Linked DNA regions of Homo sapiens. The protein of the gene in region 1 interacts with the protein of each later gene in a biochemical or structural test. Each region holds a gene or a part of one and is shown on either strand. Other genes may lie near its edges.

Region 1 (2,705 bases):
TTCTGAGAGTTTCCCCTCAAAGCACACAAAATTTAGATTCCTCTCTGAATTTTTTTCTTAAAAGATGGTTCGGTCCATAGTTTTTACCAGATCCGTAAATGGATCTATTTCTCAAAAGTGTTGAAGATCATCTATCCTTAACACCTTGTAACTACTACTCTTACAATGGGAAAGAAGGGTCAGGAAATGGGAGTCTCATGACATAATAGACACAGCACAGGGCCTATTACTGAGGATGTGAACATTTTATGACCTCTTTTCCAGGAAAGAGAATTAACAAAAGGGAGGGAAGGATTTTTGAAGTTTGGGTAAGAATCTATAGCTCCTTTCAACTCTCTCAATTTCCCACTGCTCTATCATCTCTCAAACAGGCGGGTAACTGGAAATAAAAGAATGGCTCTGGAAGGTGAACTCTATCCCTTGAAAATTGATTGAGAATCTGCAAGCAAATCACTTAATCTGTTTTGCAGTCTCTGAAGCTAAGATTGCCTTGGTTCTATGAGTAGAGCCAAGCAGAGCAGTGGCATGAACTAAAGAATAAACAATATTCAGTTTGTACTTTCTTTCCCAGAGTTCACTGGCACAGGAGGGATTAAAGACTCAGTATGAGTATTTTTCTAAAGTCACCCTACACCCTGATGTTTCTCATAGCATGTCTCTGGATCATTAATGTGTTTCCAAGCAAATAGTTTCATATGGAGCGTTTATTTACCCTTATTATTAAGATGCGTGTGTTTCACTGGAAGCATTAGCTTTGAGGCCTATCAAGCACATGATAGAAACAGGCATGCAAAAGGAAGGAGTATTCTGTCCAGGGAGCATGAGCAGGCAAGCTCACCATTGGAAATAGTGATGAAATAACAGGGAAATACAACTGAAAAACACACTCAAAAATGTATTACATAAAATAATTTACTTCTCATTCAGCGTGACCTTCCAGACCTATTAGTAAGACAGCAGTCTGTGAGTTCAGATACAATCTGAAAGTCATGACAATTATAATAGGGCAAGACCAATAAAGTTACACATTTGAAGTCAACTAGAGACAAAATTGTGGAACTGTGTATAACAGAAAATGACACTGATGAGGAACTCCAGGGATATTAAGGGCAAGATTGCCAGAGAGACAAGAAGGGTACAATTAGAAAACCTGCATCTTTAATACAGTGAGATTTGTATGCATACACTCTGGTGTCTTCATTTTGCAGCCCATTATATTGGCTTAAAAGCCAGAAAGGTGCTCATGCATGTAATTTATACTGGAGCAACGAATGCAGTGTATGTGGACGCGTGTGTGTGCACTTTGAAAGGCAGTAGTTTTAGAAGAATGAGAAGAAAATTACTTCCTGGGCATTCATTAATAATTCAGGTGATATCCTGTACCTCCATTTATAAAACAATATAATAATAATAACACGTACAAAATAACATCATAAATAACATAAATGAGAAGTTTTCAAGTATTTCAATGTGCCTTGAAAAGTTTCAAACAGTAATTCTCACAATTGGTTAGACAATCATTTTTTTTTTCTTTTCTTTTCCTCTCATTTAGTCTCAGAGCCTAAAAAGAAATGCCTCCAGTCTCTGTTAGCCCCGATGTTTGGAATGAAATTAACAAGATTCTACCTTAAAAGAGAAAACTTATGTGGGCTTTTCAAATTGTGAAAATTTGTTCCCTCTTATAAAATATAATCTTTCCCCTGCTGCTGGTTTATAAATATAGGCATATAGCCCAGAGCCATTATAAAGAAAAAACAACCAACCACAATAAACTAAGGAGCCTCATCTGATGGCTAAGGTTCTCAGGAAAAAATGAGAAGAGCACCTTGATCAGGAAAGGAAAAAAGGATAGAGGATAAAAACAGTAACCTTTAACTTCTATGCCCTCACTCAGCCAGTAACTTACGGCAGGTGTTGCTGGCAAGGCCTTAGCTGTATTTCTTCATTAAGTTGAACATCCTGTCTGCCAACTCCATACCAACCCAGCTGCTAATAAGCATGCCCTGAGCACCCAGGAAAAGAAGGGAAGGCTGGCAGCTTAGGAGCTCAAAAGTGCCATCAGAGAAAACCAGCTCAAGGGAGCTAAGGTATTTGCTCCTTAGAATAGTGCTCAAGGTGGAGGCTGTCAGTGGTCAAATCAAGCATGAAGTTCCTTGGATGCTTCTCCAGCAAGATCCATGGAATTTTACAAAACCAACTTTCCACAGGTTAGCATTTCTTTCTTAGCCTACATGGCAGTTAGTTCATTTTGCCCTGTTCAAATGTAGTATGAAAGAACAGAGATCAAAACACCCATGTAAGTACATACACATACTCTAGTTATGAGCACCTAGGGTCTTTCCCATCACTCTTGCAAAAGTGTGTGTGTGTGTGTGTGTGTGTGTGTATACATACACTCACACATACATATGTATACACAGACATCTATATACAGAAATAATGTATATGTGTGTCTAATGTATATATAATATATACACATAGACATACACACAAGCACATATCATAGCTCAACCTCATCTAAACATCTAGAGTCTGGAGAACGTGCTGGCCAACAGAATACATGTGCATGTGGATGTCATGTGACATGCACTAACCAACCATCCCGAGGTAAAACTGTTGGGAGGAGGAAACTGCCAACAATCTTTGAAAATCCAGACCTACCAGGCCATTATTTAGATATTTGCTCCCATGGAACCCTCAAAGAA
Region 2 (3,734 bases), on another chromosome or scaffold:
GTGCAATAGTATGAAGTCTTTAAAAATGTACTTAATGTTAAAATACTGCTAAAAAATGCTAATGATCATCTGAGTCTTTAGAAAGTTGTCATCTTTTTGCTGATAGGGGGATCTTCCCTCAATATTAATGGCTGACTGATTAGGTTGGTGATTGCTAAACGTGGGGGTGGCTATGGCAATTTCTCTCTTTTTTTTTTTTTTTCTGAGACAGAGTCTCACTCTATCCCTCAGACTGGAGTGCAGTGGCACGATCTGGGCTCACTGCAATCTCCGCCTGCCGGATTGAAGCAATTCTCCTGCCTCAGTCTCCCGAGTAGCTGGGATTACAGGCGCCTGGCTCATTTTTGTATTTTTGGTAGAGATGGGGTTTCACCATGTTGGTCAGGCTGGTCTCAAACTCCTGACCTTAGGCAATCCGCCCACCTCGGCCTCCCAAAGTGCTGGGATTACAGCCGTGAGCCAACGCGCCCGGCCAGGCAATTTCTTAAAATAAGACAACCATGAAGTCTGCCACATTGATTGACCTTTTCACAAAAGATTTCTCTGTAGCATGTGATAGCATGTTACCAATGGCAGAACTTCTTTCAAAACTGGAGTCAATCCTTGCCAACTCTGCGGCTGCTTTATCAACTATGTTTATGGAATATTCTAAATCATTTGTTCTTATTTAAACAATGTTCACAGCATCTTCACCAAAAGTAGATTCCATCTCAAGAAACCACTTTCTCTGCTCATCCAGAAGAAACAATTCCTCATCCATTAAGTTTTATCATGTGTTTACAGCAATTCAGTCATAACTTCAACCTCCACTTCTAATTCTAGTTCTCTTATTTCTACCACATCTGCAGTTACTTCCTCTACTAAAGTCTTGAACCCCTCAAAGTCATCCAGGAGGGTTGGAATCAACTTCTTCCAAACTCCTGTTCATGTTGATATTTTGACCTCCTCCCACAAACTATGAATGTTCCTAATGGCATCTAGAATGCTGAATCCTTTCCAAAAGTTTTTCAATTGACTTTGCCCACATCTATCAGAGGAATCGTAATTTATGAAAGCTATAGTTTTATGAAATGTGTTTCTTAAATAGTAAGAGTTGAGAGTTGCAATTACTCCTTGATCCATGGGCTACAGAATGGATATTGTGTTAGCAGGCATGAAAATAACATTTATCTCCTTGTATATCTCCATCAGAGCTTTTGGGTGACCAAATGTATTGTCAATAAGCAGTATATTTTGAAAAGAATCTTTTTTTTTTCTCAGCAGTTCTCTACAGTGGACTTAAAATATTCAGTAAATCATGTTATAACAGATGTACTGTCATCCAGGCTTTCTAGTTCCATTTATTCAACATACGCAGAGTAGCATAATTCTTAAGTATTCTTGGATTTTCTGAATGGTAAATGGAAATTGGCTTCAACTTAAAATTACCAGCTGCATTAGCCGCTAGCAAGAGAGTCAGCCTGTCCTTTGAAGCCAGGCATTGACTTCTCTCTAGCTATGAAAGCTCTAGATGGCATCTTCTTCCAACAGAAGGCTGTTTCGTTTACATGGAAAATCTGTTTAGTGTAGCCACCTTCATCAATTATCTTAGCTAGATCTTCTGCATAACTTGCTGCATCTTCTCCATCAATCAGCACTTACTGCTTCACGCTGCACTTTTATGTTGTGGAGATGGTTTCTTTTCTTAAACATCACGAACCAACCTCTGCCAGCTTCCAACTTTTCTTCTGCAGCTTCCTCACTTCTCTCAGCCTTCGGAGAACTGAAGAGAGTGAGGGCCTTGCTCTTTGATTAGGTTTTGCCTTAAGGGAATATTGTGGCTGGTTCAATCTTCTATCCAGAGCACTAAAACTTTTTCCACATCATCAGTAAGGCTGTTTCACTTTCTTATTATTTGTCTGTTCACTAGAGTAGCACTTTTAATTTCCTTCAAGAACTTTTCCTCTGCATTCACAACTTGGCTAACTGCTTGGCACAAGAGGCATAACTCTTGGCCTATGTCAGCTTTCAACAGCCTTCCTCACTAAGCTTCATCATTTCTAGCTTTTGATTTAAAGTGAGAAATGTTGAACTTTCCTTTTCACTAGAATACTTAGAGGCCATTGTAGGGTTAACTGGCTTAATTTTAGTATTGTCCCATCTTAGGGTATAGGGATGCCCAAGGAGACGGAGAGAGATGGATAAGTAGCTGGTCAGTGGGGCAGTCAGAACAAACACAGCTTTTTTTATTATGTTTGCTGTCTTTTATGGATGTGGTTCATGGCACCCCAAAACAATTACAATAGTAACATCAAAGGTCACTGATCACAGATCATCATAACAGATATAATAATGAAAAAGTTTGAAGTATTGTGAGAATTACCAAAATGTGACACAATGACACGAAGTGAGCACACAATGTTGAAAAAATGGCACTGAAAGGCTTCCTTGAGACAGGGTTGCCATAGACTTTCAATTTGTAAAGAACTGATTATCTACAAAGCACAATAATAAAGCTCAATAAAATAAGGTATGCCTGTATTTCACTGGTTCATCTGTATCACTGATTTATAAAAGTATCTATCCAGACACACTCTTTGTGCAGTACTGAGGACAAAAACCTTTTCATTTGCAGGATGTTTGGTATTATAAGAAGTCAGTTTCCAGCACTAGCACATCTACACTAAGTTACTGTTCCTTCCCTAGACTCTTAGTTAGTGGGGCTGAATCAGTCATTTTGACTTAGAGTTTTAGAACTCAATTTCACATCTAATTCTATAGAATCTGGCATTAAAAAATCAAAATTTCCCTAACTCCCCAAAATAGAAATTATGAGATGGTGAAAAAACAAAAGCCATTAGGTCTTGCTAAGATCTGGTGACAAAGTACTTCAGTTAGACTCAAAAGACCTACATTTTCATCAGTTTTCCCACTCAGAGTGTGTCCTTACTACACAAAACTGTGCTCTGGCCTAAAACAATATAGATTCAAATTTCTAAGGAAAATCATCTCCAATTAAAATCACATATAACTCCTCACTTCTATATTGAAGTCAAGAGATTATGTTGTATTTTAAAGATCCCCTATAGCCCAGGCACGGTGGCTCACATCTGTAATCCCAGCACTTTGGGAGGCTGAGGCGGGTGGATCACCTGAGGTCAGGAGTTTGAGACCAGCCCGGCCAACACGGCAAAATCCCGTCTCTACTAAAAATACAAAAATTAGGTGGGCATGGTGGTGTGCACCTGTAATCCCAGCTACTCGGGAGGCTGAGGCAAGAGAATTGCTTGAACCCAGGAGGCAGAGGTTTCAGAGAGCCAAGATTGCACCACTGCACTCCAGCCTGGGTGACGTCTCCAAAAAAACAAAAAAAAAAAGTTCCCCTACAGATATGAGATTATGGGTACATTTTTCTTTGATTTCCATAATGATTATTGCGTAACCATAACAATATTAAACTTTTAAAAAATCCTCCCATTTCAGCAGGAGACAACTTTGGGAAATAACAGAAATATTCTATAACCTGATTTGGTGGTAGTCACACAAGTATATACATTTGTTAAAATTTATCCAAGAAACGCCTTAAATGGGTACATTTTATTGTATGTAAATTATATCTCAATAATGTTAATATCTCTTAACATTCTCAGCTTCTATTACCCCCACTTCCTCTCTACCTCAGTGTCTTCTCATTCATTCATTCATTCATACATTCAATAAAAACTTTGAAGCAATGTGCTAGAAACTAGATACAG
Region 3 (3,500 bases), on another chromosome or scaffold:
TCCAACCTCAAACCCTCGGTGCCAGCCTTCAGAGGCGTGGGGTGGGGGATTTGCATGTGTTCCAGACAGAAGGAGATGACAGACGCCAGGCTGTGACCCCATAGCCTATGGGCCCCGCTGTCAGGAGTGTTGGGGCTTGTCTCCAGTGACCCTGTGGGCCATGCTCGGTGCCTGGCGGGCTGCAGCCCAGAAGGGGACCACGCAGTGGACCTGCAGGCTCAGGGCAATCACCAGCAACTGTACAACCACCAGCTTGGCGCTGCTGTCCCAGAAACAGCTCCAGAGCGCTGCACACGCATCACCCACCCCACTGCCAACAGCCCCCCACAGGCAGGTACTATTATTATCTCCCTTTTATGGAAAATAGTAACTGAGCCAGAAAGGGTGCTGCCTAAATTCAGCAGCAAGCCAGTGAGTAGCAGAGCCAGGACTAGACCCAGAGGAAGGCTGCACTCTCCCAGGGGAATGTCCCCTCACTGAGGCCCTAGGCTGAATGTGACGCAAGACAGAAGGTAGGAGCCTGGTCTGGCATTTGGCAAAGGAGCCCAGAGCCACGACTGTCACTCACCAGCATGCCTCATCCCCATTGCCCTTCCTGGCCCATCAGCCCCACACACTGCTCCCCAGCACCCCCAACCCCACGCAACTCTCCTGCAGCATCCTGGGCCCTCCCCACCTCTCCCTCAGCATCCCCGGCCCCATGCTGCTTCAGCAGCATCTGACGCCAGTGCCCCAGGGATGGCTGTCAGGCTAAGACTGCTATTTCTGTTGCCTGTACATTCTTGCTTGGCTGCCTCCTGGTTTTTTTAGGGTTTGCTTAAATTTGCTATGGCCTGATGGCCTCTGTGACTCCACCAAGTTTATGGAAGAGGCACATTCTGCACGGCTCTGTGTGATCAGGTTGCATACACAGGCTCTGCCACACTGGCATCATGAGGCATTTGCCTTGGCAATACAGAATTGGTGGAGTGCCGGCACGGCCTGTCCATGATGGAAACCTCTAACCACAACAGCTGGCTGGACCCCAGAGCCATTGTGGGCACCCGAGGCCCAGTGCTCAGAGGGCTGGCCTATCCTGCGGCCGTCTCCTCAGCGCTGCCCCCTGCCCGGGGGGCCCAGGCCACTCACCGTGGTTTCGTCTTCGTGGAGCACCTGGTCATAGCCGCTGAGCGCGACACAGAAAATGATGGCCGTGACGTCCTCGAAGCAATGGATCCACTTCTTGCGTTCAGATCGCTGGCCTCCGACGTCAAACAGCCTGTAGGAGGCAGGGAGCTGGTAGGCGCAGGGTCCAGGCAGGTGAGGGCTGCCTGGGGATTAAGCTGTGAGCACGCTGAGAGGCAGAGGATGGGGGCCATGGTGCTCAGAGCCTTGCTAAAAGCCCTCACTAGAAGACCTTGTCACTCCAGGTGATGACAGACAGCTGGATCACTGCCATCCCCAGGCACTACCCCTGGAGTCTGTCCTGGGACTGGCTGTGCTCACAGATCATGACTCAAAGACCTGCCCTTGCATCTGAGGAGCATTTTACTAAGAGGGCGCACCTGAGCCACCCCCAGGAAGTGCCTCTGAGAGTCCTCCTCGCATGAGGACCCTCCTCTCAGTCTATTCCTTCCTGGGTTTGCTCTGGGCAAACTCCAAACCAGCCTGGGAGGGAGGCAGGCAGGAGATGTCACCTGTTATGTGGATGGCAGAAGTGAGCCACCCATGGGCTTAGGACATGCCCAAGCTGGCGAGAGTCCAGCTGTGGTGGAGCTGGGTCTGGCTGTGGACAAAGCTGGCGCTCTCACCTCTGCCCAGTACGGCCCCTTTCTGGCAGATCAGAGCCTGGCCTCTTCCCCCTCTCAGACTCTACTCCCGAGGGGGCACAAAAATTCTGGAAGAGACTGTGGGCAGGTGGGACTTACGTCCTGGAAGTAAAAGGTCAGTCTCCCACCCCAATCCCCAGAGCGAGGAGTCCTGTAGCCTCCTAGATCTGGGATGCCTGCTGACACACAGCCTGCCAGAGGGGGACAGGGAAGGATCTCTGGTCCCACCGGACACAACGGAGTGACTGCAGGCAGAGATTAGTGTGGGCTCAGAGCAAGGAATGGGTCTGGTTCTCATTCCATCAATCAGGGGATCCTCCCCTGGATCCCACCTCCCCATCTGAAATGCAGGGGCGTTGGCAGATGGCCTCTGTGGCCCCTCCAGAATGCTTATTCTCAGACCCCGCCTTGCTGGGCTGGGTTGAGCTGAGATCCCCATCCTGTGCTCCCAGTGGGGGAGCAGGAGAGACCAAGGAGCCTGGGAAGGCAAGAGAGGCCCCTCAGGGCTGCTCTGCCCAAGGTTTTGCTCCCCAGATCTGCGGAGGCCTAGGGGTTCCTGGGCCCAGAGCCTCGGCCCCTCAGTCTGAACAGGAGCGGGCAGGAGTTGGGGACATGGGAGGCAGGGAATATTAGAATCCAGCTCTCCCAGCAGGGGTCCCTGCCCTCCCCTTCTCTGCTGGCCTCTCTTCCCCACAGGACGGAGCAGGCCTCAGTGCACGCATGTTACTGCAGGTGGGGACACAGCGCTGCAGCAGGACCCTGGGAACCAGCTCACCCGTCAGGCCCCTGCTCTGAGGCCCCAGAGCCCCTGGGTTCTAGCTGTGCTCTGTGCCTGGGAAAAGCCCTGCTCTTGTCAGGCCTCAGCTTCCCAAGCGTACTAGGAGAGGGTGGGTCAGCTCTCTCTGCTCCTTCCAGCTCTGGGATTACTTGGGTCCTCAGGGTCTCACAGAGGTAGCTTGGGCTTACCCAGCCCCACTCTTGGCTCCTCCCCCCAAGGTGACCTTGGAAGGGCCCCCTGGTAGCCCACCTCCTCCTCCTCCTTGGAAGTCACCTCAGGGACAGGCTGCCCCTCCTTGTCCAAATCCTCCCTGTTCCTCACAGCCCCACTCTGGGAATCTTCTTCCAGAAAGCCTCCCTGCTCACTCCAGCCCCTAACCTTGGCAGAAACACAGACAGGTTCCTTCTAGTATCTAGCTGCCTGCCCCAGCCCGCAGGTTCCCTGGGGCAGGATGATGTTTGGGCGCTGTAAACGCAATGCGCTGAGAGGCTGGGCATGTCCCATCTTAGCCCTCGCCAGGGCCTGGGGGCCTCTCTGGGCCTCACCTGAAGTGGAGGTTCTTGAATGTGAAGTGGGTTTCTACGATGCCAGTGGTTTTGACCCTGGTTCGGAGGATGTCCTGCTCGGTGGGCTGGTAGTCGGCGGCCCCAATCCGATCCAGGCTGTCCAGGTAGCTGAGGATGGCAACAAACAGGGGACTATGGACCAAATGCCTGGACACTGTTCGGGACTGGCCAGGCCACCCATCTTCAGAGTCCAGTCTCGGTCAGGGCCCCTCCAGGTCACTGTGGAAAAGACATCACCTCCATTCCAGGCCATAGGGAGTGGGGGCGACTGAGGAAGTGGGTCTTAGGGGTCTTGGCCTCACGCACTCATTCACAGCCAAAAGGGCTACGCATGCAGCTCCCGGGACA

What was found.
Region 2: the proteins of RGS4 (region 1) and UBR1 interact in a test that uses a peptide from one of them, tested with the Homo sapiens proteins (one study listed by BioGRID).
Region 3: the proteins of RGS4 (region 1) and GNAO1 form a complex in vitro, tested with the Homo sapiens proteins (2 studies listed by BioGRID).

Annotation. Positions count from the first base shown.
Region 1 is NC_000001.11:163,074,784-163,077,488, reverse strand, and holds the end of RGS4 (regulator of G-protein signaling 4), read right to left. Parts: 3' UTR 687-2,705; downstream 1-686. UniProt on the Homo sapiens protein: Inhibits signal transduction by increasing the GTPase activity of G protein alpha subunits thereby driving them into their inactive GDP-bound form. Activity on G(z)-alpha is inhibited by phosphorylation of the G-protein.
Region 2 is NC_000015.10:43,095,988-43,099,721, forward strand, and holds part of UBR1 (E3 ubiquitin-protein ligase UBR1), read right to left. Parts: intron 1-3,734. UniProt on the Homo sapiens protein: E3 ubiquitin-protein ligase which is a component of the N-end rule pathway. Recognizes and binds proteins bearing specific N-terminal residues that are destabilizing according to the N-end rule, leading to their ubiquitination and subsequent degradation.
Region 3 is NC_000016.10:56,334,489-56,337,988, reverse strand, and holds part of GNAO1 (guanine nucleotide-binding protein G(o) subunit alpha), read right to left. Parts: intron 3,261-3,500; coding exon 3,132-3,260; intron 1,259-3,131; coding exon 1,129-1,258; intron 1-1,128. UniProt on the Homo sapiens protein: Guanine nucleotide-binding proteins (G proteins) function as transducers downstream of G protein-coupled receptors (GPCRs) in numerous signaling cascades.